2 separate regions of the Homo sapiens genome follow, and region 1 is linked to region 2. The links come from fine-mapping of genetic effects on gene expression. A gene starts in region 2. The other region holds a variant in brackets. All regions are shown on one strand. Distances are from middle to middle.

The links.
Region 1: its variant is fine-mapped to the expression of DHFR2 in whole blood (TOPMed, PIP 0.98).

Annotation. Positions count from the first base shown.
Region 1 is chr3:93,886,549-93,900,562 of GRCh38, forward strand. PROS1 (protein S) reads right to left here. Exons shown (of 15, transcript NM_000313.4): 8 at 11,900-12,021; 9 at 10,028-10,143; 10 at 6,385-6,574. Among named protein-coding and RNA genes, the nearest start is that of PROS1, 80 kb to the right of the region's middle. The variant A/G (reference allele first, on the strand shown) is at 7,925.
Region 2 is chr3:94,057,179-94,073,754 of GRCh38, forward strand. DHFR2 (dihydrofolate reductase 2) reads right to left here and starts at 5,738. Exons shown (of 2, transcript NM_176815.5): 1 at 5,568-5,738; 2 at 744-4,428. The coding sequence starts at 4,333. The coding sequence ends at 3,770. NSUN3 (NOP2/Sun RNA methyltransferase 3) reads left to right here and starts at 5,883. Exons shown (of 6, transcript NM_022072.5): 1 at 5,883-5,960; 2 at 7,259-7,368. The coding sequence starts at 5,949. RefSeq lists an enhancer at 5,777-6,016.

The DNA.
Region 1 (14,014 bases), 170 kb before region 2:
TGTCATTTGAAATACTGGGATCTAAAACTTATGTTATTATTCCAATAAAATACTTCTGTAAAGTAATCATTTTAATGTAATTATTAATTTGTTACAACTCATTTGGAATGTCAAATTATGATAAATGTGATAAAAAGGCATTTAGGGTGGCAGCACGATCAAAAATTAAAAGCATACCATATTTTAAAGTTAAAAAAAATACTATTCTGTTAAGCTTAAACATCCAGTTATATATCTTTCAATTCCAGGCTGCTAGAAAATTAACAATTAAGTGAGCCATTCTATCTTAGGAAAAATTTAAGTGGCCTTATTTTGCAATTGTCTGATAATACGCACATGGAATCAATAGTGTAAATAAGTTCTTTTTTTTTTTTTTTTTTTGAGACGGAGTCTCGCTCTGTCGCCCAGGCCAGACTGCGGACTGCAGTGGCGCAATCTCGGCTCACTGCAAGCTCCGCTTCCCGGGTTCACGCCATTCTCCTGCCTCAGCCTCCCGAGTAGCTGGGACTACAGGCGCCCGCCACTGCGCCCGGCTAATTTTTTGTATTTTTAGTAGAGACGGGGTTTCACCTTGTTAGCCAGGATGGTCTCGATCTCCTGACCTCATGATCCACCCGCCTTGGCCTCCCAAAGTGCTGGGATTACAGGCGTGAGCCACCGCGCCCGGCCCATAAGTTCTTAATATAAAGTAAGAAAAATCAATATGTTCACTATTCTGTTAATTGCACACAAATTATTTTTTCTTTAAAATTCAAAAGTGATTGAGGCAATAAGAAAAAAATACATAAAATTAAATTGGAGTTTTCCAATTTTGAGAGTTGTTTGGGTTTTTAAAAAAGGTTTCAAGTAAGGGTAAACAACAATAAAAATTCCTTCTACAAAGGCAATTTGAAGAACCACTGCTGCAATCACTTCAAGTAAAACTATAGCACTCAAAGAGCAAACTCTTCACTCACTAACCAATAATATAAGCCAAACAATAAGCATATTAAAACACCATGATAGGAAGGGAAAAACTATCCTCCAACATAAAATAAATTTAGTTACACAAATTTAAAGTTGGTCAACACTCCTTCTTTAATATAGCCAATTAGCAGCATGTGAACAACTATTCTCTCCTTTACAGACTTTCTTAACTTAGCCTACAACACTTGACCCTGATTGCTTCTCTTTCTACACTCTAACCACTACTTCTCAGTCTCCTTTGCTGGATCCTCCCCTCCCCACAGCTCAGGCCCCAGACCTTTTTCCTGTAGCCATGCAAGTATTTTAAGTGAGACACTATGACTCCACTCCAGGGCATTTGGAAAATTTGGAGGTGAGGAACACTTTTATTTGTCACAATGAGTAGGGGCCATGCTGGCACTGCAAGATGATAGACAATCTGCATTATGTACATAGGCTAGTCATGCAGAATTAATAATAATAAGTAATGCAGAACTAATAATAAAATATCAAGTATTCTTAAAATCTTTTGAACATCACTGCTAGGTATTCATGTAGGGAATATTCATGCTTACAATCATCTGAGTTTGTGCATACATAGACACAAAATATTTGCTGCACTATTTTAGCATTCATTACATTTTTCAAGAATGTAATAATCTTGACAACTAAGGATAGATTGATATTTGTTTTGTTCATATCTTTACCAGGAACTTCCCACCACTTTGGAAAATTAATATTACCAATGGCAACACCATGTATGCCCTTAATGGTACTTGAGTTGCTAATTTAACACCCCAGCATTAGTCTTCATTTGTAGCTTTTACTTTATGCATAGAAGCAAGCTTTGACAAGTGTTATAGTTATAGTTGACTACGTATATATTGAAATACATATTATTTTCTTATAAATTACTTTCCTTTTATTTATCCATATTAATATAATAATGACAGAATTATTTTGGTTTTGATTGGGTATATGTGAAGGTAGTTTATATTACTGATACATTTCATTATAGAATAGTAAAGGAGCATTATATATTTTCAGACATTGGATGAGATAGTGTTTGGAACCACTGGTCAACACAAACAGTTTCATGGCCTTAAAACCCCTCTTTATGCTGAGTATTCAAAAATTTTAATTGAAGGCTTAACTTCAAAAATATATCCAGAATCTGACCACTTCTTACCACTCTTACCATCAGCACACCAGTCAAACTGTCATCTTCTCTCCGCTGGGTTATTCCAACAGTCTCCTAACTCCATATCCCCATATCCTGTTATACACTCATTCTCCACTTCTGGTTTCCACAAAGCCATTAGCTTCTGATTGGGATTATCTTTTAAAATGCAAACTAGATCATGTCCCTTCTCAAAACCATCCAGGGCCTTTCAATTTAGCATAAAATCCACATCCTCATCATGGCCTCCAAGGCCCTAGATGATCTTATTCTAGACCACGTTTCTAACCTCATTTTCTAACTACTCTCCCCTGCTGCTACACTACTCTGTGTTATTCCTCAAATACCAAACACATCCTATTCCAAGAAATTCTGTACTTGCTGTTTACATGGTACAGAATCTTTTTATATTCCCTCATTTATTTCTCATGACATGTGCTCTCAAGTCTCAGCTCAGATCTAATCTCATCAGAGATGCCTTTCCTGATTCTATATGCATACTAACCACCATTACTCTCTATGTCTTTGTCTGGCTTTTCTTTTTCCTTATAACATGAATAACTATCTGGCATATTTATTTTTTCATGCATTTGTTGTTTGCGTCTCACCATTAGAACGCAAGCTCCATAAGAGCACTGACTTTTTTTTATTTGCTGTTGTATCTTTACCACCTAGAATAAGGATTAGCACATAGAAGTGCCAATAAATATTTTGCTGAATGAATTATGATACATTTACAATTAAAATTCCTATTAATATTAGACTCATAATCAAAGATAAGATGTAATCATTTATAAATTCACCACGTTTGCCCAAGTGTGCTTTGTTTGTACCTCTAATGTAATGTATTTCATGTTACATTATATTATTTCCCAAAGAAGCATCAGCTACTTATCTGTGAGGTACTAAGCTCTAGAGCAAGGAAAATCTCTTGCTATTGTTGCGGGAAGTCAGGGACCCCGAATGGAGGGACTGGATGGAGCCACAGCAGAGGAACATAAATTGTGAAGATTTCATGGACATTTATTAGTTTTCAAATAATACTCATAATTTCTTACACCTGTCTTACTTTAATCTCTTAATCCTGTTATCTTCATAAGCTGAGGATCTACATCACCTCAGGATCACAACTGTGTTAACTGTACAAATTGATTGTAAAACATGTGTGTTTAACAATATGAAATCAGTGCACCTTGAAAAAGAACAGAATAACAGCGATTTTAGGGAACAAGGGAAGACAACCATAAGGTCTGACTGCGTGCAGGGTCGGGCAAAATAGAGCCATATTTTTCTTCTTGCAGAGAGCCTACAAACGGACCTGCAAGTAGGGAAGATATTGCTAAATTCTTTTCCTAGCAAAGAATATTAATAATTAATACCCTGGGGAAGGAATGCATTCCTGGGAGGAGGTCTATAAATGGCCGCTCTGGCAGTGTCTGTCTTATGCAGTTGGGATAAGGACTGAAATACGCCCGGGTCTCCTGCAGTACCCTCAGGCTTATTAGGGTGGGGAAAAAACCCCACCCTGGTAAATTTGAGGTCAGACCAGTTCTCTGCTCTCAAAACCTGTTTTCTGTTGTTTAAGATGTTTATCAAGACAATACGTGCACCGCTGAACATAGACCCTTATCAATAATTCTGCTTTTGCCCTTTGGCTTGTGGTCTTTGTTGGACTCTTTATCAGTAGTTTCTGATTTTGCCCTTGTCCTGTTTCCTCAGAAGCATGTGATCTTTGGTCTCCTTTTTGCACTTTGAAGCATGTGATCTTTGTGACCTACTCCCTGTTCTTACACCCTCTCCCCTTTTGAAATCCTTAATAAAAACTTGCTGGTTTTGTGGCTCAGGTGGGCATCACAGTCCTATCGATATGTGATGTCACCCCTGGAGGCCCAGCTGTAAAATTTCTCTCTTTGTACTCTTTCTCTTTATTTCTCAGCCAGCCGACACTTATGGAAAATAGAAAGACCCTACAATGAAATATTGGGGGCAGGTTTCCCCGATATGCTATAGTTCTAATGCCTTGAACTCAGGAACTTAGCATCAAAAGCACTCACTAAAAGCTTACTGAATAAATGAGTGCATGTCTGCATAAATGAAGGACCAAAATAATTTAGTGATGACCTCACATGACTTCTCAATACAAACTTCTTGTCTGGGTGCAGTGGCTCACACCTGTAATCCCTGCACTTTGGGAGGCTGAGGAGAATTGATCACCTGAGGTCTGAAGTTCAGGACCAGCCTGGCCAACATGGTGAAACCTGTCTCTACTAAAAATACAAAAACTACCTGGGCATGGTGTCAGGCACTGATAGTCCCAGCTACTCGAGAGGCTGAGACAAGAGAATCACCTGAACCCAGGAGGTAGAAGTTGCAGTGAGCAGAGATCACTGCACTCCAGCCTGGGTGACAGAGCAAGACTCCGTCTCAAAATAATAGTAATAATAGTGATGATAAATAAATAAATAACATAAATAAATAAATTGAGATCAGCACAAACTTCTTGCCAGCTCCTCTAGGCATAAAAGATGTCTCTTTTGTGCACCACATTCTAAGGTGAAGCCAATCTTCTCTCAGCTATCCTCTGCTGATGGCAGCAATGACTCTATACTTCAGAAAAGACTTCTCCCCACTATCAACTAGCAGTAATCCCTTCAGAAAAGTCCCACTTTAATCCAGTTGATTAAAGTGCTATTCTTGATCATTAGATTAAAGGCTATATGTAGGATTAAATTAAAATGCTAATTTCTTTTCTTTCTTTCTTTCTTTTTATTTTTGAGACAGTCTTGCTTTGTCACCCAGGCTGGAGTGCAGTGGCGTGATCTCGGCTCACTGCAACCTCCGCCTCCTGGGTTTAAATGATTCTCCTGCTGGGATTGCAGGCGTGCGCCACCAAGCCTGACTAATTTTTGTATTTTTAATAGAGATGGGGTTTCGCCATGTTGGTCAGGCTGCTCTCGAACTCCTGATCTCAGGTGATCCACCTGCCTTGGCCTCCTAAAGAGCTGGGATTACAGGCATGAGCCACTGCGCCCAGCCTAAAATGCTGATTTCTAAGCACACTGGTACCTGCTAATGTATATCATTTGCACAAAAACTGACAACTAGGTCCGGTACAATGGCTCATGCCTGTAATCCCAGCACTTTGGGAAGCCAAAGTGGGAGGAGGATTCCTTGAGTTCAAGACCAGCCTGGGCAACATAGCAAGACCCTGTGTCTATTTTTTTTTAAGGATTACTTATCTATCTGCTTATATTTGAATTTGAATTACCTTTTTAGACTTGTTACTATGTTTATTTCTCCTTACTTTAAAAAATATTGTTGGCAATTGAGGAGTTTTCCTTGATCAGTGTTGTCTTTGCATAAATTGTTATGCCAGCCGGGTGTGGTTGCTCACTCTTGTAATCCCAGCACTTTGGGAGGCCGAAGTGGGTGAATAGCTTGAGCCCAGGAGTTTGAGACCAGCCTTGCCAACATGGTGAAAACCTGTCTCTACTAAAATTACAAAAATTAGCCAGGTATGCTGTTGCACACCTGTAATCCCAGCTACTCAGGAGGGTGAGGCACAAGAATCTCTTGAACCTAGTAGGTGGAGGTTGCAGTGAGGCAAGACCATGCCACGGCACTCCAGCCTGGGCAGACAGAGTGAGACTGTCTCAAAAAAAAAAAATATGCTAGCCGCGGTGGCTCACATCTGTAATCCCAGGACTTTGGGAGGCCAAGGCAAGTGGATCACCTGAGGTCTGGAGTTCGAGACCAGCTGGACCAACACGGAGAAACCCCGTCTCTACTAAAAACACAAAATTAGCCGGGCATGGTGGCGCATGCCTGTAATCCCAGCTACTCGAGAGGCCAAAACAGGAGAATCACTTGAACCTGGGAGGTGGAGGTTGCAGTGAGCTGAGATCACGCCACTGCACTCCAGCCTGGGCAACAAGAGCAAAACTCTGTCTCAAAAAAAAAAAAAAATGTTAGGCCTCCTAATAGTCCCTAACACCACTGTTCACCAAACAGCAACTAAAAAAGGTAAAAAGTTAAAGACAGAGTAGTTCAAGCAAATAACTAAAAACAATGATTCTAATATATTAAGTGAGAATATTATTTCTCAGGATGCTTCAGGGATTTACAGTATGTAGAATATACCTCATATAGCATCAGATAACTCCAAATCCATTTTGGTTTGGTATCACTATAAAAATAAATTATGATTTTATACAGACTGCATCAAAGTGGGAAGATATTGATGAAATCTGCAAACGTACCATATTCCATAGACCATTATTAATAACATCACCTCCAGTTGTGATTTTGGATGTATGTTCATTCTTAAGCTGAACTTCAATCTTTCCACCACGAAGTGCAATCAGGAGCCACGCTGAGTGATCGATAGATTCTGCGTACAGTATCACGCCTTCTGAATCATATGTCCGGAAATCAAATTCTGCTGAAAATCTAAACAATGGACAAAGAGAGATCCTTAAGAGTAAGAAATACAGAAAGCTCAATGCATTATTCTTTTTTTCTTGTACTGACAAACAGTAACACAGACAAAGAGTCAATTATTTATTTCTTTTTCTGGAATTAATAAAAGAGAAGGGCAGAATTAGACTGCTCATGTATTATCTCTGGTTCCATGTACGTTTAAAATTAAGTTATTATATTTTCTTGCTTATTCTTGGAATCTTTTCCCCAGGGAACAGATGCTTTGGTAATTTGTCATCTTTCTTTGACATATATTTTGATAGCACCTTCCAAATGCTGAAATTAATACACAGGTATAAGTATCAGGCATACTATATCTCTCCTGGAGCCTTTTATACACTATATAATCTGACATTAAGAAGTGGTAGTTTTTTTTGTTGTTGTTCTTTTTTGTTTGTTTTTGTTTTTGCTGTATCCATAAGTGATCATAAAATGTGTTACAATTTCATCGTTGGTTTATTCATCAAAAGGCATATTTTCCCTATAATTTCACATGTCAGGAATCACTCGTGGAGATCTACAAGATGGCACATGGATGACTGCAGACATCATTAAGCCTTCATGTGTGGTAAGAAAGGTAAAATTTAAAAACTTAAAATATATCTATTAGCTTTCCTAAAACTCCAGTTGCATAAGTCACTGTTGTAGAATACACAGAAGGAAAACTTAAAAGACATAGTCTACCCATGTGTTTGGGGGGTATCTGAGTGCTGGCAACATCTGTTGCTATTAAGACTCTAGACATATATGTAGCTATTACAGGGGAGAAAAGTCTTAGGATGCAGGACTTAAAATAACATGTGTTGATTCAGTATCCTTAAAACACTTCAATGAGAATCAGCATTGAAGTTTCCAAGGGACTAGCAAATCCACATGATTGACGAAAGACAAACAGGGAAAAGGAACAATAGGTGTATAACTATTAGTCACCTAACTTAAAATAAAGGCAATTTAAGTTAAAGAGTCTGGACTTCAGATAATTGCTATATTAGGCAGGACAGAATCCCACACTCTTACCGCAATATAGTAAAATAGTAATAGTAATAGAGGCACCATTTGCAATGGGGCACGTATCTCCCTCAAATGGAACAAAGAAAAGGTGACAAAATGAATGTTTTCATCTTTAGAATTCCAAAGAAATATTTAAAAAGAGGTAAAATGTGGAGTAAAGTATGTTGGATGGATAACAATGTAGTAGGAATTTACTGAACTCAGATTATGAAAAAAAGAACAATTTTGCTTGGAATAAGGACTTCTATGCTCTTTCATAATTATCTGAGCATTTTGCTGATGTGAAGCAATATTATCTTGCCAAAATCC[A/G]AATCTGTGTATGCTCAGGATCTTCCAGCAGTTGATTCTATTATGGAGATAATTTCCTTTTCTTTGTAAAATCAGGCTGAAATCATAGTTTCAAAGGGTCATGTTCTGCATATTTTGTTTCTGGAATATATCAGCAGCATATTGATTCATTACAATGGGGAACAATTCATTCTTTTTCACAAGCATGGTAAACAGGAAAATAGAATGAATTTGTTGACATTTACGGAGGGAAAGTATTTGATCATGAGCAACAGACGTCAAGAAATTTGCAAAAATAAATAAAAGCACTAGCTATTCTTTGTGTTGATCACACAAGGGGCAGTTTATAAAAATTCATCAAGCTATACATTTAATCTAATGTGTACATATCGGTACATACTTTATATTTCAATGAAAAGTTTAAAATAAATAAATAATAAATTCTGGAAAAAATAATTTGTCCAATTCTGATCCCATGTTAGAGATCAAACTACTATGAATCGTCAGTGAGAAATGAACAAACTCCTGGAGATTGGCTCCAGGACCTCTGGATGGTATCAATATCCACAGATGCTCAAGTCCCTTATATAGAATGGCATAGTATTTGCATATAACCTATGCACATCCTCTCACGTACTTTAAGTCGTCTCTACATTATGTATAATACTCAATACAATGCAAATGTATGTAAATAGTTGTCATACTGTATTGTGTCTCATTTGTATTATTTTGTATTGTATTGTCATTGTGTTTTTTTCTGAATATTATCTACCCGAGGTTGGTTAAATCCACAGATGAGGAACTCAAGGATTTGGAGGATCAATTGTATTCCTAAAAGTGTTATTTACTAGAACTAATATTTTTCTCTCATTATTATTCTCATAGCAGGGAAGAGTTTTCTCCAATCTCTATCATTAGAAGATATTAGTTGCTCTGTGATGTTAAAGGAAAAAACCACATATTGGCAGAAATAAAGTGTGGAAGGAGCACTGTTACTTAAGTATTTATGTAAGTTATTGATCTTAGAATAATTTTCAATGTTTTTAATAACGTCTATGAATTTAGTTGAATTATTTAATGAATAATCATTCATGTATCTAACATCAAGTTCTAAACATACATGCTTATTTAATTAAAATATTTTAAAATTTGAACTGTATAATCTGTCTCAAGTATTTTGCCTTCTCATTATTCCAAAAAAAATCCAATTTCTTTCTTCTACTTCCAGCAATGTATGCTTCTGAGAAAATCTGATAACTGAAGTACAATTATGGCAGATCACCTGAGGTGATCACCTGAGGTCAGGAGTTTGAGACAACCCTGGGCAACGTGGTAAAACTCTGTCTCTACTAAAAATACAAAAATTAGCTGGGTGTGGCAGCTCACACCTGTAGTCCTAGCTACTCAGAAGGCTGAAGCAGGAGAATTGCTTGACCTGGGAGGCGAAGGTTGCAGTGAGCCGAGATTGCGCCACTGCACTCCAGCCTGGGGAACAAAGCAAGACTCTGTCTCAAAAATAAATAAATATAATAAAATAAAAATTGGATCATAAACATTGCTATAAAAATAAGTGGAATCATGACTAAAAAACATAAGCATTTACTTCATTTCTGAACTCAATCTAAGTACGATAATAATGGATAAAGTATTTAGACAGCCAACTAAAATTATGTAATATATGTCTTTAAAATGCCACTTAAGCAAGTTTAAATTTTTTCCTTAATAATTTTGAATATAATGATATTCTAAAAGCAATACTGAGTATTTTTTATTACCTGGTTTTCATAACATGTGTAAAGAATAATGGAAATTTCACAAGTACATTAAATCTACTTTCCCAGCTTCTTAGTAAATATGCATTTTCTACAAAAGGAATAATATGGAATAATGTAAAATGTTCATTGGGGAAAGTCAGCCTAGAATGACTCAAAAAGGTTTTAGGATGAAAATTACATGTGTGAAGGAGTAAATTAACTTTAGGTTTCCCCAAGTCATCTGATTGGTAATATGACTACATTATCTGATAGGTAATACAATTTCACACACTTCAAACCTTTTCGGCCACTTTTCTTCTGCCCTTATCTGCTTAACCTCTAGAAATTATCATTGGTATTGGTTCCTCACCTGCTGATTTCTGGCAAACGAAATTTTAAATATAAAACAACCCCTGCAAACTGCTCCGCCAAGTAAAGTAATTCATACTTTGTGTCAAGGTTCAAGGGAAGGCACACTGAAACAACCTGGAATAAAAGAAACCAAATAAACAACAAGAAAATCAAAATGCACAGGTTATTGCTTAATGTTTGTGTGAGGTCATGCATTTTTGTTTGGTTACTAATGTATCATCTGTAATACACTAAAATAATTAAGAATATTTTTGGTAATAATAAATACATATCTTCCATTTCCTTGTATAGTCTATCTATCAGTATAACCTCCAAGAATACATGTGTTTTAAAGCCTCGTTCAATGTGCATGGCTTTCGATCTTTGTCTTTAATACTTCCTTTGCAAATTTTCGTCCTAAACACAAACTCTTTCTTCAAGAACCAATATATATTTCTTTAATTAACAGTCAGGTATATTATCTCCCATGAATTATGTCTGAAAATTATTTTTATTTGAAGTCAGAAATAGGTGTAAGAATTAATGTACCAATAAACAGCACCTCATTCATTCACTCATTCATTTATTAAGCAAAAGTTTTCTGAGCAAGAATGTGCTATCTAGATAGTAAAGGGAATACTGGAAAACATGAAGGAAATAAATATAAATTCAGATCTCATAGTCTCCAAGGAATTTACAAGAACATTATTTAAAGTCATCACATATGGTATCAAGTATTTTTTTTCTACGAGTGAAAACAAACATTAAAATGAAAAGCTTTTAACATACAAATTATTGAACACATATGAGGATATTTTGAGGAGAATTACGTACATAGCACTATATTAAATATAGGCCCAGAAATAACATTTTATTTCCCCTTAAAACTTTAATAAATCTATTTCAAGGCAGACGGTGATATGTAACTACACCAAATACAGAAATAATAAAGGACTAAATTACAAAATAGATGTTCACACAGCATGGCATTTCAATTAAGTAGTAACGTACCAAAATTACAACAAATGCCAACTAGCTTATTACCAAGTAGGTTGCATATTATTGAATGTGACATTTTTCTGGACATATACAGCTTTGTTTTGGCAACAGCTATAGAGGTATGTATGTATACTTAGTTAAATCATTATTTAGGCATTTTTTATGGTCTGCCTCATAATAATATATAATTTTACCTTCACTTGTCAAAAAAAGATGCAGGAAAAAAAGAGCTCAGATGGTGACATTTATTTCAATGAAGTAAAAATGAGCACCTACCCCCAATATTCAATTCCTGGGTCAATTATGCATTAAATCTAAGTAATTAAAAGCAAGTTTGAGAGACACAGATTAAGAAATCAACCTCTCTGAATTATGATATACTTAAACCCCACTAAATCCTAGAAATGGTTAAAAGGGTACATTAAAACTGCACTTGTACCCTCTGAAATTTTATGAGCACTTTATAAACCCTATAACGCCTAAGGCATGATCAAACTAGTCAGAGTGGAATCCAGAAAAGTAGACACTGGAAAATGTTTTCACTGAAGTTTCTATGAGAGATTTTTTTTCACAATGAGGGCTATTAAACTCAGCTTTTCTTGATTTCTTAAGTAAACATACAAGTTGTATTTTATAAATGTACAGACTACAGATAAGTACTCTCTAAACTGTGACTCTACCCTCTTTTTTTTAAACCCAGCCACTAATTATCCCCAATGTTTATGACTTACATGACCATAATTAGTAAATAATCATGACTCATAACCTGCTTAAAGCTACAGCAATTATTGCAGAACGTCTGTATTTTCCTGACTTAGCTATGTGAAAATAAGTATCTAGGATCTCTCATTTTAGAAAACAGGTGAGAAGTTAAGCATTGTAAAATGTTTACCTCACAACTCTTCTGATCTTGGGCAAGTTTGAATCCTTTCTTCCCATCACAATAGCAAGTGTAACCTCCAGGGTAATTGACACAAAGCTGAGCACACATGTTCTCAGAGCATTCATCTATATCTGAGGTAAAAAAAACACACGCACACAAACTTTAATATCCCCTAAATGTTCAATCTTATAGGCAGAGGAATATTATGATTGTAGTATGATATAATCAATGATAATCGAACCTTAGGGAAAGAAATACTATGACATCAAACTACATTTAAACATAATACTGAACATGGAAATTTAAACGAGTTACAAGTATAGTTTTTATTTACATATTTGAAACAAAAATTAATTTATAACTTTCAGTGATTAAGTAAAGTATAACAATTCTACCAAATTTCTCATTTTGAATTTGAAGAAAAAAAAGATTGAGAATCTCAACTTAACTGTCATTTCTGATCATTTGAATTTCATTGAGATTACCTCACAATTCATTGCTTTGAAAAAAAGAAAAAAGAAATGAGAAGGGAAAGAGGAAGGGAGAGCATGATGGGGAAGTAAAGGAAAGGAAAGTTAGGGAAGGGAAGGGAAGAAAAGACCCCTTTAACTGAAGGTTGATACAATCAGGAATTAAATGACAATATCAAGAACATTGGAACACTCATAATGCGATAATTAATGTTGGCAGTGAATTTAGGGAAATATCTGTTTTTTTTTTTTTAAAAAACCTCACTGTGATGTAATCTCCCATATTATGAAATCTTCTATATGGTCCCTGTCCCTACTCCATATTTTGAGAAAATCATTCTTGGAAATTTATAATATTATGTTGAAGCAAACATCTATCTCAGAGTTATATAAGATCATTGACATTTTCATTGGATATGCCCTATGACCTTTAAAACTCCACAAGCTCATAAATGCTATTATTGAATATGTTCTCATAAAATAATTTAAAATAGATTCCCAAAATTAATAATCCTTAGTATTAAAATTGCATATTATTAAAGTTATAGATAAGAGTCATATATAAATCTTTTTAAAAAATATGTCATTCATTAAATAAAACTACAATACAAGTGATGAAGTTGGCTAATGATAATTCCGCAGACATCTAGAGTTTTCCACGGTAATTTCTATCTGCAATGGTGAGAAAGGAGAAATGTGTTGCGGGGGCTGGCAGGGGAATATTTTTGGTGATTGCAAAAGGAGATGATAGGACATCAAAATCTCAAAAGCAGCATACGTAGTTAAAAAATATATTGTAAAATTATTATTGATTTAGGCAACTTCATAGAGACAGAAAACAAGATTAGAGGTTACCGCCATCAAGGTAACTAATAAAAGAAAACTCACTGCTTAATGGTTACTGCTTAAGAGTTTCTGTTGGGGCTGATGAAAAAGTTTTGGAAATAGCAGTGATGGCTGCATAATGGCATGAATGTAATTAATGCCACTGAACTGTACATTTAAAAATGGTTAAAAGAGTACATTAAAACTGTACTTGTAGCCCCTAAATCTATTTTTTAAAAGGTACATTATACATGTGTGTGAATATACATACATACATATATATATACAGATACAATAGAAAAATTAGTGTTGATTAGTTCCAGCCATGGCAGTAAATCTGTTTTAAAATTTTAAAAAATCGAAAGGAAGGTATGAGATAATCTGTATATCATAATAAACAAACCTACAAACAAACAACTATAATATGTTGAAGCTTCCTGATGCACACAGGGCAGCGCCACTGCAGTCACATGAAGTAACAGCACCTTTAAGGGGTTGCCCCAAACCCACAGGCTCTGACATTACCGATCAGTATTTCTTAAATTTCTAGAGTATTGTTATCATTTCTTTATCATGAGATAATAGAACTGTGTCATTTTTTATTTTAGAATAAATGATTTATTTATATATGCACAGAAAAATCACTGAAAAGCTTGGAATAAAAACTAAAGTTTTAACCATGCTCATTGTCTCAATAAGATGATTTTTAAGCTTGTGTCTTTCTTTTCTATCTACTGTTTTTCCTTCCAAAGTGAAATTCTCTTTATCTTTGAATATGATATAAATGATGTGAAAATATGTTTATCTTGTTTTTACCACACATGGAGGT
Region 2 (16,576 bases):
AAATTCATAAAACATAGTTTAGGAGTTATTCCATAAATTACTCTGAAATACTTCTTAAGACCAACTGACCTTATAATAAAATTGCTTAGATATGTAAAAATTTGTTTCCTGCCTAGAGGTACGTCCTTATTAAGCTGCTTGGTTCTTTAACGCTAACATTAAAAAAAGCACAAAAAACAAACTAATGTGATTTATGTTATTTGTGTCAGCTCAATGTCTTATGTCTGCAGTGGTTTAATTCAAGTTTGCTGCTAACAGTTTTTATTCCTAAAACTCAATGTAGAATTGTTTGTTCTTTGGTAGCTATTTGGGGTGCGGATGGGGAGTAAAATCCATTAACATTCTCATGATACACATATATTGATTCTAGATAGATTAAGAGGTTAAACATAAAAGATCAAACTATGAAAAGGTAAGGGGAGAAACAGAAGTGGCTTCACTCGGGGAAAAAATGTATAAGCCTGAAAGCAGTGGAATCAATAAACTCAATTTACAATGCACAAAAAAAATTTTAAAATACCTTCACACTTAAAGTCAAATGGTTATAAGAAAAATTGAGAAAGTGTTTTAACATCTGACATGGTTATCTCAAATATAAATAAAATGATACTAAGACACCTATAGATAAGTGGACATGAGCGGTAATCTAAAAAAGAAATAACTAATAAGATTTGAAAACCTACCCAAACTAAGGGCATAATTAACTAGGCATTATAAGGAGATTATTAGAGATTCAGACAAAATTCATAAGCAAAGTTGTTTATTTAAAATCAGAAAATATAAAGATGCTGAGTCCCAAAAATGTGATAAAATTAATATGACCTCTTTCCAAGTATAACACATTGCCTTTCTCTAACAGAAATAAACTATGATTCTTATTACAGTCTTAAAATTCTTTTTTTAATGAATGAGTGTAACTTTTTATTAAGATAGAATTATTTTTATTAAAGAAATATATGAAAATGGTTAAGTAAAATCAAATGGCTCCAAAAGTCTTACAATGAAAACAGTCCTGCGACTTGTTCTTTCCAGAGGAAAGCACTTTTCATTCTCTTAGTTTTTCCTTCTGGTAGTTACCTCCATGGGTTTTAAAAAATTACTATTTTTTTAGTTTTTCAAGTGAATACATATATTAATACATGTAATCTTTAAAAGCCTCTTCAGTTTATAATGCATCCTAACAGTCCCCTGCCCCATCCCTCCTAATTCTCTGGAGCAATGACTTCTAACTCTTCTAGCAATGTTCCATTCTTTTCTTCACATAACTACTTAGTCATTTCTTGATTATGTTATACATTATATAGTGATTTCTTGATATGACAGATGAGGATTTAGCTCTTACACCATCACTATCTTCACTTTTCCCCCCATATTGTCCCAAAGTAGTTACCAGATTTAGGGGCTAAGCAGTCAGTCACCACATCATTATGACTATGTACATATTGCCCATTGTTGAGAAAAACAGCGTATGATGCTCTTACTTCCTATCCTGTACTTCTTCCTGCCCTAGAATTAATTATTGCCTAACCAACCCTTCCCCCTTGTTTTTTTTTGTTTTTTTTTTTTTTTACTTTTGCTTTATCTTCAATGCACTTCTTTCCAAATGCCCCAAATCTGGCAATAACCTATTATTTTTAAGAGAAGGGATCTCACTATGGTGGCCAGGCTGCTCTGAACTCTTGGGCTCAAGCCATCCTTTTGCTTAGCCTCCTGAGTAGCTGGGACTACAAGCATGGGCCATCCCACCCAGCTAATCTATTAGTATTTTTACTGTTTCTTTTTAAAGCTAGCTCCATAGCTGGAATATTGCCTGTGTTGGATACTATTTGCTGGATCCACGTCATTCTCTGGTTTGTGTACGCCTTCATTTTGCTGGAGTATTTTCTCCGATAGCTTCCCAAGAAAGGGTACATGTAACCCCTGAGTCTTTGCTTGTCTAAAAATGTATTATTTTACCTTCACCCTTGATTCTTTGCCTGAATATAGATTTATCAGTTGAAAATAACTTTATAGAATTCTGAAGGCATGGTTCCGTTGTTTTCAGATTCTTTTTTGAGACAGGGTCTCTTCTGTCACCCAGGCAGGAGTGCAGTGGCAAAATCACGACTCACTGCAGCCTTGAACTCATGGGCTCAATTGAATCCTCCATCTCAGCCCCGTGAGTAGACGAGACTACAGGTGTGTGCCACAATGCCCAGCCAATTTTTGTATCTTCTGTAGAGACAGGGCTCCACCATGTTGCCCAAGCTGGTCTCAGGTGATCCACCCACCTCAGCCCCCCAAAGTGCTGGGACCACAGGCGTGAGCCACCACTCCTGGCCAGTTTTTAATTCTCTCTCTACTTCTTTCATTTCTCAAAGGCATCTCAAACTCAGTGGGCCCAAAACCAAAGTCAAACTCCATCAGAATATCCTGCTACTTCCAACTTTAAAATATATCTTAAATCACAATTTCTTACCACATGCAATCCTTTGGTTCAAACTACCATCATCCCTCACTTGAACCTAGAATTGGTTTTCCTGCTTCTGTACTTTTTTAAATTATAAAATATTTCAAATAAACCATGTGTGGCTTTATACTTTTTACTAAAAGAATGAAGATCTGCCAAGTGCAGTGGCTGATGCCTGTAATCCCAGCACCCCTGAAGGCCGAGGCAGGAGGATCACCTGAGGTCAGGAGTTCGAGACTAGCCTGACCAACATGGAATGTCCCCACCAAAAATACAAAATTAGCCTGGCGTGGTGGCACGCGCCTGTAGTCCCAGCCACCCAGGAGCCTGAGGCAGGAGAATTGCTTGAACCTGGGAAGGCTGAAGTTGCCGTGAGCCAAGGTTGTTCCATTGCACTCCGCCTGGGCAACAAGAGTGAAATTCTGTCTTAAAAAGAAAAAAAAAAAAAAGTATGAAGAGTTTACATACTTAAACATGGAATTGCTTTAAGTGTTTGGCATTCACCGTTCCCGTACATTACAGCAGCTTCTTTCAGCAAACACCTGGAACTTGCTATTGAGTAGGTGGAGTACGTTCTGCCCACACACAGGACAGGGAGCTGACAACCAAGGAGTGGGGGTTAAATACTCTAGCTTTCTCCCCTCCGTTTCCCTGTATCTCAGCAGTATGGAGCTCGTTACCATTGAGAACCTCCTCACTGATTTTGAACTGGTTTTTACCTTCTCAGTTCCATTTCTCCATACTTCGATTGATGACTTCTGGTATGACCTAGCAAATAAACTGCTTTCACTTAAATTTCAGTCTTGGAATCTGCTTTGGGTTCCCCAATCTAAGACAGAAATATATTCATTTTCCCATCACTGGACTTCCAGGTTGTTTTCAGTTTTTCACTGTTACAAAAAAGGCTGCAACATTTGTCTACAAACCTCTGGATATACATGTACGAAGCTTTTGGTATTTCCTACTAGTGAAACTGCTCAGCTGAAGGGTATGTGCATCTTCATCTTTAATAAATACTACCAACATTAGAAAAGCCTGACAATGTCAAGGAGTGGCAAGAGTGCCACATGTGATGGGTGTGGAATGGCAGCTCACTGTAGCAGGTGCTGGGGACTCAGTCGGGGTCTTGGAGAGACAGTTATAGCAAGAATGTTTCATAAATGGTATCTGATATAGCCAAGATTAGTGAGGAATAAAAACACGTTGCTTAGAAATAATTATCCATAGATCTGAAGTCAACAAAAGTCCCTTTTCTAATGTAAAAATGCATACTTTTCTCAGAGGGAGGGGGAACAACTTAAACCAGAAAACACCTTCATATTAATCATCCTTCTCACATACTTCAAATTTGTACTTGATGTGTTTCCCCTCCTGGACATCAGAGAGAACACCTGGGTATTCAGGCAGAAGTTTATATTTCTCCAAGTCAATTTCTGAAAAAAACGTGTCACTTTCAAAGTCCTGCATGATCCTTGTCACAAATAGTTTAAGATGGCCTAGGTGATTCATGGCTTCCTTATAAACAGAACTGCCACCAACTATCCAAATCATGTCTACTTTATTTGCTAATTCTGGTCGTTCAGTAAGTTTTAAGGCATCATCCAAACTTCTGGCAAGAAAATGAGCTCCTTGTGGAGGTTCCTTGAGTTCTCTGCTGAGAACTAAATTAATTCTATCCTTTAAAGGTCGATTCTTCTCAGGAATGGAGAACCAGGTCTTCCTACCCATAATCACCAGATTCTGTTTACCCTCTACTGAAGAAGTTGTGGTCATTCTCTGGAAATACCTGAATTCATTCCTGAGCGGCGGCCTGGGCAGGTCCCCGTTCTTGCCGATGCCCATGTTTTGGGACACAGCGACGATGCAGTTTAGCAAAAGAAACATGACAGCAGCGGTTAACACCTCCGAACTTGCTGGCTACGCCAGGAAGCCAGGCCAAGAATGCCGCGAAATTCCCTTCTTCAAATTTTTTTACGTGCCTACATTGCAAATACAATACCACTGTATTAATTAATTGCAACATTCTGGAATGAACATAGAAAAATAAATTATATAAAATATATTTATAAAGTATAAATTTATAAAATATTTATAAAATATAAATTTATAAAATTATAAAAAATACAGAGGCTGAAAGGTTAGACCGACTTTTCCACAAACATTAAACAGACGGCATCCAAGAGATGGCATCATTTCATTCCTGATTATCATAGTCTTTTGTACCAAATCTAAATTCTAATAAGATGCATTTTTTAGGTGACTTGGAAACTTGTTTAAATAAATAAATATATTAAGCTTCAAATCAGATTAGAAGGAAAGACATGTTTTTACATGAATATAAGACTTGTACCTATAGCATGTACGTATATTGATATGAGCATCAAGGAACAACTCAAAATGATGATTATTAACTATCAGGGACCATATCAAACCGGTTTTTTCTAATTGCTGATTGCTGCTACAAATGATAGTTACTGAAGCATGACACCAAAAGAGCAAATAAACTTCTATTCGTGTCAAAATAGGTGTAATAAACATCTTCCTTGGAGAACCATTAAACATTGCTCCCTTGTAAAGGTGAATTGGGGAGGCTAGAGTGGAGGGTCCTTTTGGTCTTCACGCATTTGGTATCAACGCGACAAAAATCACAATGATCACAATAGTGAAAATAATAGCAGCTAACATTTGGGCATTTACTGTTTCCTAATCACTGTTGTAACCGCTTTACATGCCTACTTCAGTTTAACACTCTCCATTAAAAGGAGAGATTATCCCCATGGGCCAGGTCTGGGGAAAAGCATGACTTAATTTCTTTTTCATTATATTCCACCCTTTTATCCTTGGGTACTGAATGTCTAGGTTAACAGGGGTCACTAGATTTGGTAGATTAAGTCAGTAACTAGCTTCGCTTTGAGAATATTTTAAATCAGTCATCATACAACATAACCCCAAAACTCATTCCTTTATTGAGCCCCATGCATATACACACTGTTCAGCACAATATGCGACTTTTTATTTATTTTTGAGACAAAGCCTCGCTCTGTCGCCCACGCTGCAGTGCAGTGGCGCGATCACGGGTCACTGCAACCTCAAACTTCTGCCCAAGCGATCCTCCCACCTCAGCATCCGCAGAAGCAGGGGCCGCACAGGCGCGCAGATGTGTGACTTTCTAAGGTCCGGCCGCCCAAAGCTACGCCGACCAATCCAAGTAGCGAAAGTCGCTTTGGCCCTGGCCCGTTACCTCCGCGTCCTGGGAAGTATCAGCCTTTACCAGCTACCGGAAGTAACTGCGCACGAAATCTCCCGCGGGAGCTAAGCCTCTTCGACAAGAATTCTATAGCGCGAGCAAATCAGTATCTCGCGAGAAATTGAAGAGGAAACGTGAGAATGAAAGTGGATGCCCGCGAATCCCGGAAGTCAGACTGTTTTTTTCAGTTCCCTGGAGGCTTTTTGATACTGATTCGCGTACACCTGTTGTTTGAAAGCTCTCAGCGGGACAATGCTGACCCAGGTGAGACCTGGGGCCCGGCTGGGTACCTCTATCTGAATGAGACGCTTCTGGACGCGGCCGAGGTGGCGAGGGAGGGTGCTGGGATGGGGGAACATCACCTTTGTTCGTCCCCTCGCGAGATCAGCGTTTCTTTGGCTTTACTGTCAAGCCCTGAAATAATGCTGAGTGCTGTAATGCTGAGTCCCTTCCGTCCAGCTCGCAGACTTCTAGTACCCACTCCCTCCAGCTCTTGGAGGGCTGAGATTTGTTTTCTGTGTCACAGCGGTATCCCGGGAGCTTAGAACAGTGTCTGTTACATAGTAGGCATTGAATACACGTTTCTTGGATGAATAAATGAAACAATTGCAAGGAAGTTCACGATGAAATTGGAGTGACTTTTCTCCCTAAATTAACTTTTCACTTTAAAATAACGTTGCAAAGATAGTACAGAGTTCTCAAATACCTTTCACCAATTTTTCTTGATGTCAGCATCCCCGGTGACTTTTTAGTTTTGTTTAGATACAAGTTCTTGCTCTGTCACCCAATCTGGAATGCAGCTGCTCCATCATAGCTCACTGTAACCTTGAACTCCTGGGTTCAAGCGATCCTCCAGCCTCAGCCTCCCTAGTAGCTAGGACTACAGGAGCAGGCCACTACGCCTGGCTAATTTTTTTTTTTTTTTTACTTTTTGTAGAGACACGTCCTTGATATGTTTTCCAGTCTGGTCTTGAACTGGGAAATGATCCTCTCGCCTCGTCCCTGCAAAGCATGAGCCAGCTGGAGTACAGTGGCGCGATCTCGGCTCACTGCAACCTCCACCTCCTGAGTTCAAGCGATTCTCCCACCTCAGCCCCCTGAGTAGGTGGGGTTACAGGCGCCCACCACTACTCTCGGCTAATTTTTGTATTTTTAGTAGAGACGGGTTTCCCGTGTTGGCCAACCTGGTCTTGAACTCCAGACCTCATGTGATCCTCCCGCCTCTGCCTCCCACAGTGCTGGGATTACAGGTGTGAGCCACCTGCCTAGCCCCTACAGTGACTTTTTAAAATTAATTTTGTTCCTTTTGACAGTTTCTTCAGCCCCAGTAGATTCTGTTTTAACCTTTGCTTCACATTTGGAAAATAATTATTTGGAAAAACCTTGCTTTTTCATAATTAGATAATGTACAGTTTTGGTACATGTAAGGTATTGCTTCCATTTCAAGAACTAGTAATTATCCAAAAAAAGTGTTCTTGTCTTAAAAAAAGACCTTGCTAATGTTGACGTTCAGTAAATTTGTAATATCACTGTGTGTCAGCAACTTTTTCTTATCGTCATAGCTGAAAGCAAAATCAGAGGGGAAGCTTGCAAAACAGATTTGCAAAGTTGTGTTGGATCATTTTGAAAAACAGTATTCCAAAGAACTCGGAGATGCCTGGAATACAGTAAGGTTAGTATAATTCATCTCGATGCTTTATGATGGAACAAAGTACAATATGTAGTCCTCCTTTTTGTGGGAGGGATGCTGTGAGGTTAAAAGGCAAAGGAATCTAAATCTGGTTGCCTTTTCCTACTGAAGCTATAGAAAGGAACAACTAAGAAGAAATAGAATGAATCATAGCATGTTGGAAAGGGGAAATAAAACTTTGTCGGGATGGTAAGCACAAATTGTTACGCCTTTGCTTTGAGCAATTACTTTGATCCTTGAAATAGGAATGCCCACTAGTTTGACAAAATTAATTATACTGTAAAAGAAAAAAACATAAAATTTGGAATATTTGACTGATTTCTGAAATTTAGAAGATAATACAACAAATCTTTAAAGCCAGCACTGCTTTATCTCAGCCAAAGGTACACTTTATTTGGTAATCATATTTCTTTCCTATGTCGATGGCTGGGTATATTTTGAACACGTGCATATACACACAAAATTATTTAAATATAAAAATAAGGAATGTTTAATGCATGGAAGTGGGAGAAATGTGATTTGTCTGTTTGGTAAGATGATGTTAATGTATGGATTACTGTATGGGTTCTTGACATTGAGTGCCTGATACACTATATAACCCTCTCTGGAATACAGAGCAAGACAGTCTGCATGTCCAGTTTACATGCCGTCTAGTTAGTGTTAATGGGAGAAGTGAGGAGATGGGTGTGGTTACAACTATATAAACTAATTTGTAAATACTGTGATCCAAGTATCTAACAAAGCCTGAGGGTGCCAGCAAAGGCCTGAAGGGAAGCTGGGTCTTGGTGACTTAGAGGAGTTACTTTGACAAAAAGAACTAGGCCTCCTAGGTTGAGGGAAGAAGGTGCACTGTTCATGAAGTTAGGGCAAAAGCCCACTACATGTTGCATGAGGAAAAAAAGTTGCATGGCTACAGATATTATCTGGAACTTGGTCCAGACTAATTTTTCAGATGGTTGGCTTGTCCATTTTTTTCTTGGATCAACTCTTAAGCATTTCTCCTTTACAAAGGGCAGTTCTGAGCATTTTCTAAAACAAATTAAGTTTTGGCTAATAAAGATCACAAAGTCTGAGGTGATTCTGAGATAATTTTAGGACAATTAAGCTGTTATAGAAATTGGTAAATGCTGTAATATGCAAACCGTTTATACTCGTGGGTTTTATTTCAAAAGTAGATTTTCAAATGGGTATTTTCTGTCACAGAGATGAAGAACTGAATAATAAAGTATGTAATAAATTTATGAGGTTTTCAGTATACAAAGGTACTCAAATAGAGTATCCAAATAACCAAACACTTATTGCATGTTTACTATATGCCAGACAATACTGACTTACATGATCCTCAGAACAAACCCGTTAAGAGTTTAAGTAATTTGCCCAAGTTCACTCAGCTAATAAGTGGCAGAGCTGAGGCTTGTGCCTGGGTTGTCTGACTCAATAACTCCCACAGCTCATCCTTGTTCTGTACTGTCTCATATCTGGGATGTGATTTAAAAAAAAAAAAGATTTCAAGAGGCTTTTTTTTTTTCTGTAGACTTTGTAGCAGTCTGGCTACTCATATCCTATAATGACTTATTTTTCTACTTAGTGTACTCAGAAAGTCATATACTATTATTTGACCCTGAGCAAAATGAGCAATGAACCTCAAATCCATTTAATTAGCTGTGCCTTCTGCTTCATTTACCCTATTGTGGGGTTTTTGTGGTAATTTAAGTTTTGCATAAACACACACTAAATTTGCCATAGGCAAAATAAAGGTTTCTCAGCTTAGGAAGTAGTCTGAGCATGGAAGATGGTATGGGGAAATAAGAACAGAATGAAATATTTTGTGTTTTAACTGCTTGTTTGCAAGACATAATGTACTTGTAGAGTCTACTTCCAGGGAAAGTCAAGTGCTCTTTTTTTGGCCTATTTAGAAAGTAATTTATTCAATATTTTTAGTTTCCTGTAGTAGTGAGGAAGATTTAGTATTTAGTTTTGCTCTTTTTTAGTAACCTTTCTTGTCTAGTCATCCTCTGAGCAGCCCTTTAAAATTGGAGTTTACCCTGGTTCAATTCTTGCTCTATTTGTTGCCTCCATGTTCTCCTCAGGTAAGCCCATTCATGGCATGACTTTTATCAGTATGCTGTCATCTCAAGCTGTGAGGTTCTTCCTAAGATTTAGTCCCATACTTCTGTTTTTTAGCAACTTCAGTTACTTGGCAAACTCAAAAGTGTATTATTATTTTTCCCTTTCAAACTTATGTTGCCTTTGCTACCTGCATATTTTATCTCAATTAAGTGTATCACCATCAGTCTGGTTTCCTCCTTTCTTCTCTATACCTTCACTACCTTTGTAGTAAAAAATGAACCTTATATAAAAATAGGTCTGGCAACTGCCCTCAGCTCCTGGGAGGCGATCTCTAAGCCCTTGGAATGTGCTTCCTGATAAGTGTGTCTTTGTTTACCTGGGTGTTGAGGTCACACCTGATAATCTAACGATGTGATTTATGTTGAGGCCTGGGGACCACAGGTGTCAACTCAACATCCAGAAGGGCTTGTGACTAAAAGCTGTATGGACAGTCAATCATATATACGTGACCAAGCCCCAATAAAAAGTGGATACCAAGGCTTTGGTGAGTGTCCCTGGTTGGCAATACTCTTGTGCATACTGTCATACATTACTGCCAGCAAAAGTTGACCTCGTTGATGATTCCGTTGGAGAGGACAGCTGGAAGCTTCATGCTTTGAATTGTTGTGAATTCTGCACTATGAGTCTCTTCCTGTGATTGTTTTTAATCTGTATGCTTTCATTATAATAAACTGTGACTATAACTGTGATTATAACAGCTTTCAGTGAGTTCGGTTGTGTCCCAGTGAATAATCAAACCTGAGAGTCATCCTTGGAATCCCTGAACTTGTAATTGGTGTCAGAAGTGAGAGTTGTCTTTGAGACTCAACTACCCTGCCCCCTTTTAATTTGGATCTTTTTAAAAAAATTCTCTACTGCTGCCATTCACTTAGACCTTCCCAATCTCTTATCTGGCATATTGCAACAGCCATGTTTAGTACTTACCTGTTTGCTTATTTTAGCAACCACTTTTATGGCACTATGTACCAGTCAATGTTGTAATCACTTTATGAATAATAACAATCCTATGTACAACCCTCTGAAATAGTTATTTCCATTTATATATAGGAAAGCTGAGGCACACAGAGGTTAAGTAACTTGCCCAAGTATACACATCTCACACTTTAACTTGCCCAAGTATACACATCTAACACTTTGAAGAGCCTTGAGAGTTTGTTGTACCCACTCTGTCATGCTGTTTCTCGGTGCTACCAAATTCCATTGTGTCACACCTTGAGTACAAACCTTTGCTCCCCAGAAGTCTGCAGTATTATGTTTGGACTAAAAATCTTATCTTTCTGGGCAGGCTCCTTCATGCCTTTGGGACTGGCTATGCTGTTCTTCTGCTAGGAATGCCTTTTTCCCTTCTCCCTCTGTGCAGTAGTGTGGGTTCAAATCCCACCTCTGCATCTTGTAGCATATGACCTAGGTGAGTTAATATCTCTGTGCTCCATTGTCCTCGTCTGTAAAATGGGGAAAAAATAGTATCTATTTCATATAATCATTTGGGAAGATAAAATGAATTTGTGTATATACAATGTGAATGGAATGTTGTTTGACGTATAGTAAGGACTTCATATGCATTAGCATTATTTTTGTTACTATGATTAACCACTTCATCAAGCCTTCTGTATGTCCCTTGGCAAAATTAGTTTTGCCCTTCGTGTATCCATTGCATTTTGTTGATAGAGCTATTGTGATTCTTTCAAGGTTTTATCGTCATAATTTACTAACTTGCTTATCTTTTTCCTGACAAGGGAGGGTTTTGAAGAACCAATACCTTGAGACTTGGGCAAGTCTTCTGCTTATTCCCAGTTTTGTCAGTGTTTGTGTACTAGGCATTGTGCTAAGCACTGAGAATACAAAAATGGACTGTATATATCCTGCCCTCAAATACATGTATGATTAATTGGATAATTAATGGATACTTAATAAATGTATGATTAATATAAGCATTAATTAGAAATATTTATTAACTGTGGAAATTTTACATGTACTTTATAGAAAGCAAAACAAACAGACCATATAAGTCTGAACTGTCTGCAACATCTTTTTTTTTTTGGACACTCTCCTCACTGACCGAGAGTTCACATACAGAGAGGAAAAAAAAATACACACACACACACACACACACATACACACACACAACCTGATAATATTACCATAATCTGTGAAGGATGTAGACTGAGGTGGTTAAGAAAGAGAGAAATGAACCAGTATCTAGATTTCTATATTGTCCTATATGTTGGCTTTACACACATTTTCAGCCTTAATCTGTGCAAATCTCTGTGAAGAAGTAACTTTTAGACACTTTAAAGTCAGAGGTTAGAACAATTGATAGGTATCTTGTAGTTGTGGCAAATTCAGTCCTGTGACTTAAAAGTCCACGCCTTTTCCTATACCATCTGTGCTGCTGTGAAGGGTCCAGAGTTGCATCCTTCCAAATGTATGCTCAGATCCCGTAGTATGAAGGACTCTTATGTTCAGGATTTTTAGCCTTTTGATGTTCCACCAGAAACGCAAAGGATTTCCTATCTGAGGTACAGTGAATAACAAATCTGGACATAAATTGCCCTTCTGTGAGATACAAGGAAGATCCATTGCCAAAATAGAATAGGAAGCCATCAGCTCTTCGTTAGCATCTCTGAGGAGTAAAAATAAAATGACTCAAAAACATACTTTGGTGCATTTCCATAAATTGATTTGTTTTTCATTTCTAACTTTTAAAAGAGTTGAATGAGCACCCTCTAGTGGATAATAATAGCACTAAATCAAGGAATTTCTCTTTTTTAGCTATGGAAATTTAAATAGGTTCTGTAATCTACAGGGTTATATTAATTGTGTTTAACAATTTCTAGATTAAATGATATTTTTCATCTTCGTCACTAGGACGGAAGGTAGGGTGGAGAGTAGAGTAGTAGGAAAAAAGAATAAAGTCACAGAAAAGTTGAATGAAAATTATACTATCAAATAATAAACATTATCGAAATGATACATTATACAGTTTTGCAAAATTTTAACTTAACTAGCTTTTAATTTTTTAATGCTTTAATTTTGTTAAAATAGTAAGTAGTTCAGAGAGCCTTGAATCAGAACTCCAATTTTATTCATTTACTCCAGGATTTAGGCCCCAGGCACTTAGCCAAGGAGAAAAATAAGTCAAGGCTCCCATATAAATGAGTTAGGGAAATGGGTAAGCAGGCAGGGTGACACACAGTGTGATATATTAGTTTAGCTTCATTAACTGTTTCTCAAAATTCAGTTATTCTTGTGTACCATCTGTCTAGTTTTACTTAATTTTTTTTTGGTCAGTTTTAATATTTTTCTTTTGTTTCTTAGGAATTTTTCTTTTGTTTCTTAGGAATTTATTTTTCTTTTGTTTCTTAGGAATTTAAGCTTATTTTATATCATTATCAGTAAATAGATGTGCCTAGCCTATAGTTGACAGACGGTGTATTTTTAGAGAATGAATGAATGTTGACAAGAAGATAATATACGATGGCTCACACCTGTAATTCCAGCACTTTGGGAGGCCAAGGCAGGAGATTTGCTTGAGGGCGGGAAGATTGCTTGAGGACAAGAGTTCAAGACCAGCATGGGCAATATAGCAAGACCTCATCTCTAGAAAAAATAAGCAATTAGCTGGGTGTGGTGGTGCGTGCCTGTAGGCGCAACTACTTGGGAGACTGAGGTAGGAGGATCGCTTGAGTCCAGGAGGTCGAGGCTTCACTGAGCCATGATCGCACAGCTGTACGCCAGCCTGGGTGACAGAGTGAGACCTTGTCTCTAAAAAAAAGAAGACAAAACAGACTTAGCATGTTGGAGGGAGGAGCAACAATGAGTGAGAAATAGAAAGACTTTTCAAGGGGGTATGTAGGCTCAGGCAAGTGACCGCAGTCAGTTTTCACATCCTCAACTTTCATGTATTCTCTTTCAGAAAATTACTCTGCCCCTCTGTACATAAGGGGGCACATATTCTCCTTTCCCAACCTGCCTTTCTCCAATTTCCCTTCACCCTTTTCACAAAAAGAAAGGCACACTTGCACCATTCTGGCTTCTATGCTATGTTCCTCCAGGTATTCAAAACCTCCATATGCCAGAAACTATTGGAGTGTCAGTGTGAGAAAGCAAATGACTAACAGATTCTCTGACAAGTCAGGTGGTTTCCAAGTTTTGCTTTCAACAAAAGTAAAGGAGCCTTGATTGAGATGTCAGCTATCAATTCATTTAAGACATTTTTGATGATAGGTTGCTAAGTGATTTGGGGATATAACTCCAAAAGAATTCAAAGTAAGAAACATTGCTATAACAAAATATATTTAATTCTCATCCACTTATTTAACTGAAGGTTTTTCTCAGCTTTTATAAAAAACACAAAATAGGCATAAAAATGATGTTGAATCCTGACTGATTTTATTATAGTAAGAAGTAATATTCATTTATGGATATATGGAAACAAAAGCTCATTTCATTAAGTATCCATTTCTTACCAATTTTTACTTTTATAAGTTGTTTTGATCGGTTTTGTACTAATAATATTATTGATCCCTGAATCCAGAAGTTACCATTTTAACACTTAGAGATTTAAGACCACAGGAAAAACAAATTTAGTACATACACATGTGTATATGTGGGGGCTAGAGAAGCATGATAGGGTGATAAAAAGATTTCAAGCATGAAAATATATTAAGATGAAGTTATATGAAGTAGAATGTAAATAAAAGAGGAAAACGAGCAGCATAAAATTTCCACCTGTTAAAGATGAGTCAGTCTATGAATTTTTAAATGGATGATGATGGGTATCAAAATCATTATGATATTTAGTTTCCACTGGGCACATACTAAAGGCAGTATAATTTGTATTTTAAAATGTCAATTTTTACAGTATGCTGGAAATTGCATCCTTTAAACATATGGTGAGATTTTAATGTCAACTTAAAATGTGTTTTTTTTCAAAATGATATCAGTGGTGCACTAGCAAATTTGCAGGTCACTGACCTTGTATGTCTCCAGTTCTGCTGGCTACTGAGGTACTTGCACTTCTTCTCACCTGGAAGACCAGTAAATGGAGCCGCTTCAGACTAACTGTGAATCTTGGGAAAAGGCCTGGAGTGTGGCACCTGGCCGCTGTTTTCTAGAGTCATCTAACATACATTCCCTCTACTGCCTGCTAAGCTACTTGCCCATCCATAAAAGCTTTGGATTCGGAAGCCACTTTCCCTCCAGCCCCAGGTTAGCAACCCACCCAGTGCAGGCACAGGAGGGGTTGTATGTGTGTGTGTTGTGGGGAGGAGAATGGAGGTCAGTGGCAGGTGTGTGCAAGGGGAACTGTAAGAATCATATTAATACACAGCTTTGCTTTCTCAGGGCTAGGAAGCACCAGCCTGAGCAGCCTTAGCAGTCCCTTCAAGAGTTGGTCTGTTGCAGCTGCTTCTATAGGCAGGATGTGGCAAGCTGATTTCATTGTTAGACAGAAGAGGGTTTCAGGGAGGTCATGGCCACTTGCACTAAGTGAGGGTTGGGGTAAAATTCTCTTTCTTGCCCCCTTTTGTAGCTCTGTGCTGTAGTACCAGGGTCTCACACGTTGGGAATCACTTCTGTTAGACTTTAAAGTCAGTCTGATTTTGAATCAGATACTTCTGCGTACTAGCAATGTGACCTCAGGTAAGTTGCCAAAATCTCTAAAAGCCTCAGTTAACCTCTAAAATAGGAGTAAGAGCTGCCTCTCTCAAGGTTGTTGTGATGGTTCTATGATATAAACATGCAAAATGAACATTGTACACATCCAGTCAGTAACATTTATTAATAATGATATCAGAGTATGGTGGAGGATGTGAACCGGGTGGTAAGTGGAAAGACTTCGTTGGAGAGAGAAAACTCCCTAAGTTGAGAACAGATAGGTGAGAGAGGAAAGGTTATTCAGGGAGGTTGGGGGCCGGGCATGTGGAGATCAGTAAATTTTAAAGAAACTTGTTAGAAGAAATCTGTATAGTTCAGTAGGGTTGGGTGTAGATCATGAAAGATCAAAAATTTCGTTTGTTCTATTTAGGCCTTATTTTGTCTAGTCACTAAAGAATGAGATAGAGTAATTTCTGAAGAGTTCTGCCTCAGTCTGCAATAAGTTCTTCTCTTTTTTTTTTATTATTATACTTTAAGTTCTGAGGTACATGTGCAGAATGTGCAGTTTTCTTACATAGGTATACCCATGCCATGGTGGTTTGCTGCACCCATCAACCCATCACCTACATTAGGTATTTCTCCTAATGCTATCTGTCCCCCAGCCCCTCACCACCCGACAGGCCCTGATGTGTGATGTTCCCCTCCCTGTGTCCATGTGTTCTCATTGTTCACCTCCCACTGATGAGTGAGAACATGCAGTGTTTAATTTTCTGTTCTGTGATAGTTTGCTGAGAATGATGGTTTCCAGCTTCATCCATGTCCCCGCGAAGGACGTGAACTCATCCTTTTATATGGCTGCATAGTATTTCATGGGGTATATGTGACACATTTTCTTTATCCAGTCTATCATTGATGGACATTTGGGTTTGTAACAAGTCTTTGCTCTTGTGAATAGTGCTGCAATAAACATATGTGTGCATGTGTCCTTATAGTAGAAGGATTTATAATCCTTTGGGTATATACCCAGTAATGGGATTGCTGGGTCAAATGGTATTTCTAGTTCTAGATCCTTGACCAATCGCCACACTGTCTTCCACAATGGTTGAACTAATTTACACTCCCACCAACAGTGTAAAAGTGTTCCTGTTTCTCCACATCCTCTCCAGCATCTGTTGTTTCCTGACTTTTTAATGATCATGATTCTAACTGGTGTGAGATGGTATTTCATTGTGGTTTTGATTTGTATTTCTCTAATGACCAGTGATGATGAGCATTTTTTCATATGTTTGTTGGCTGCATAAATGTCTTCTTTTGAGAAGTGTCTGTTCATATCCTTTGCTCACTTTTTGATGAGGTTGTTTTTTTCTCGTAAATTTGTTTAAATTCTTTGTAGATTCTGGATATTAGCCCTTTGTCAGTTGGATAGATTGCAAAAATTTTCTCCCATTCTGTAGGTTGCCTG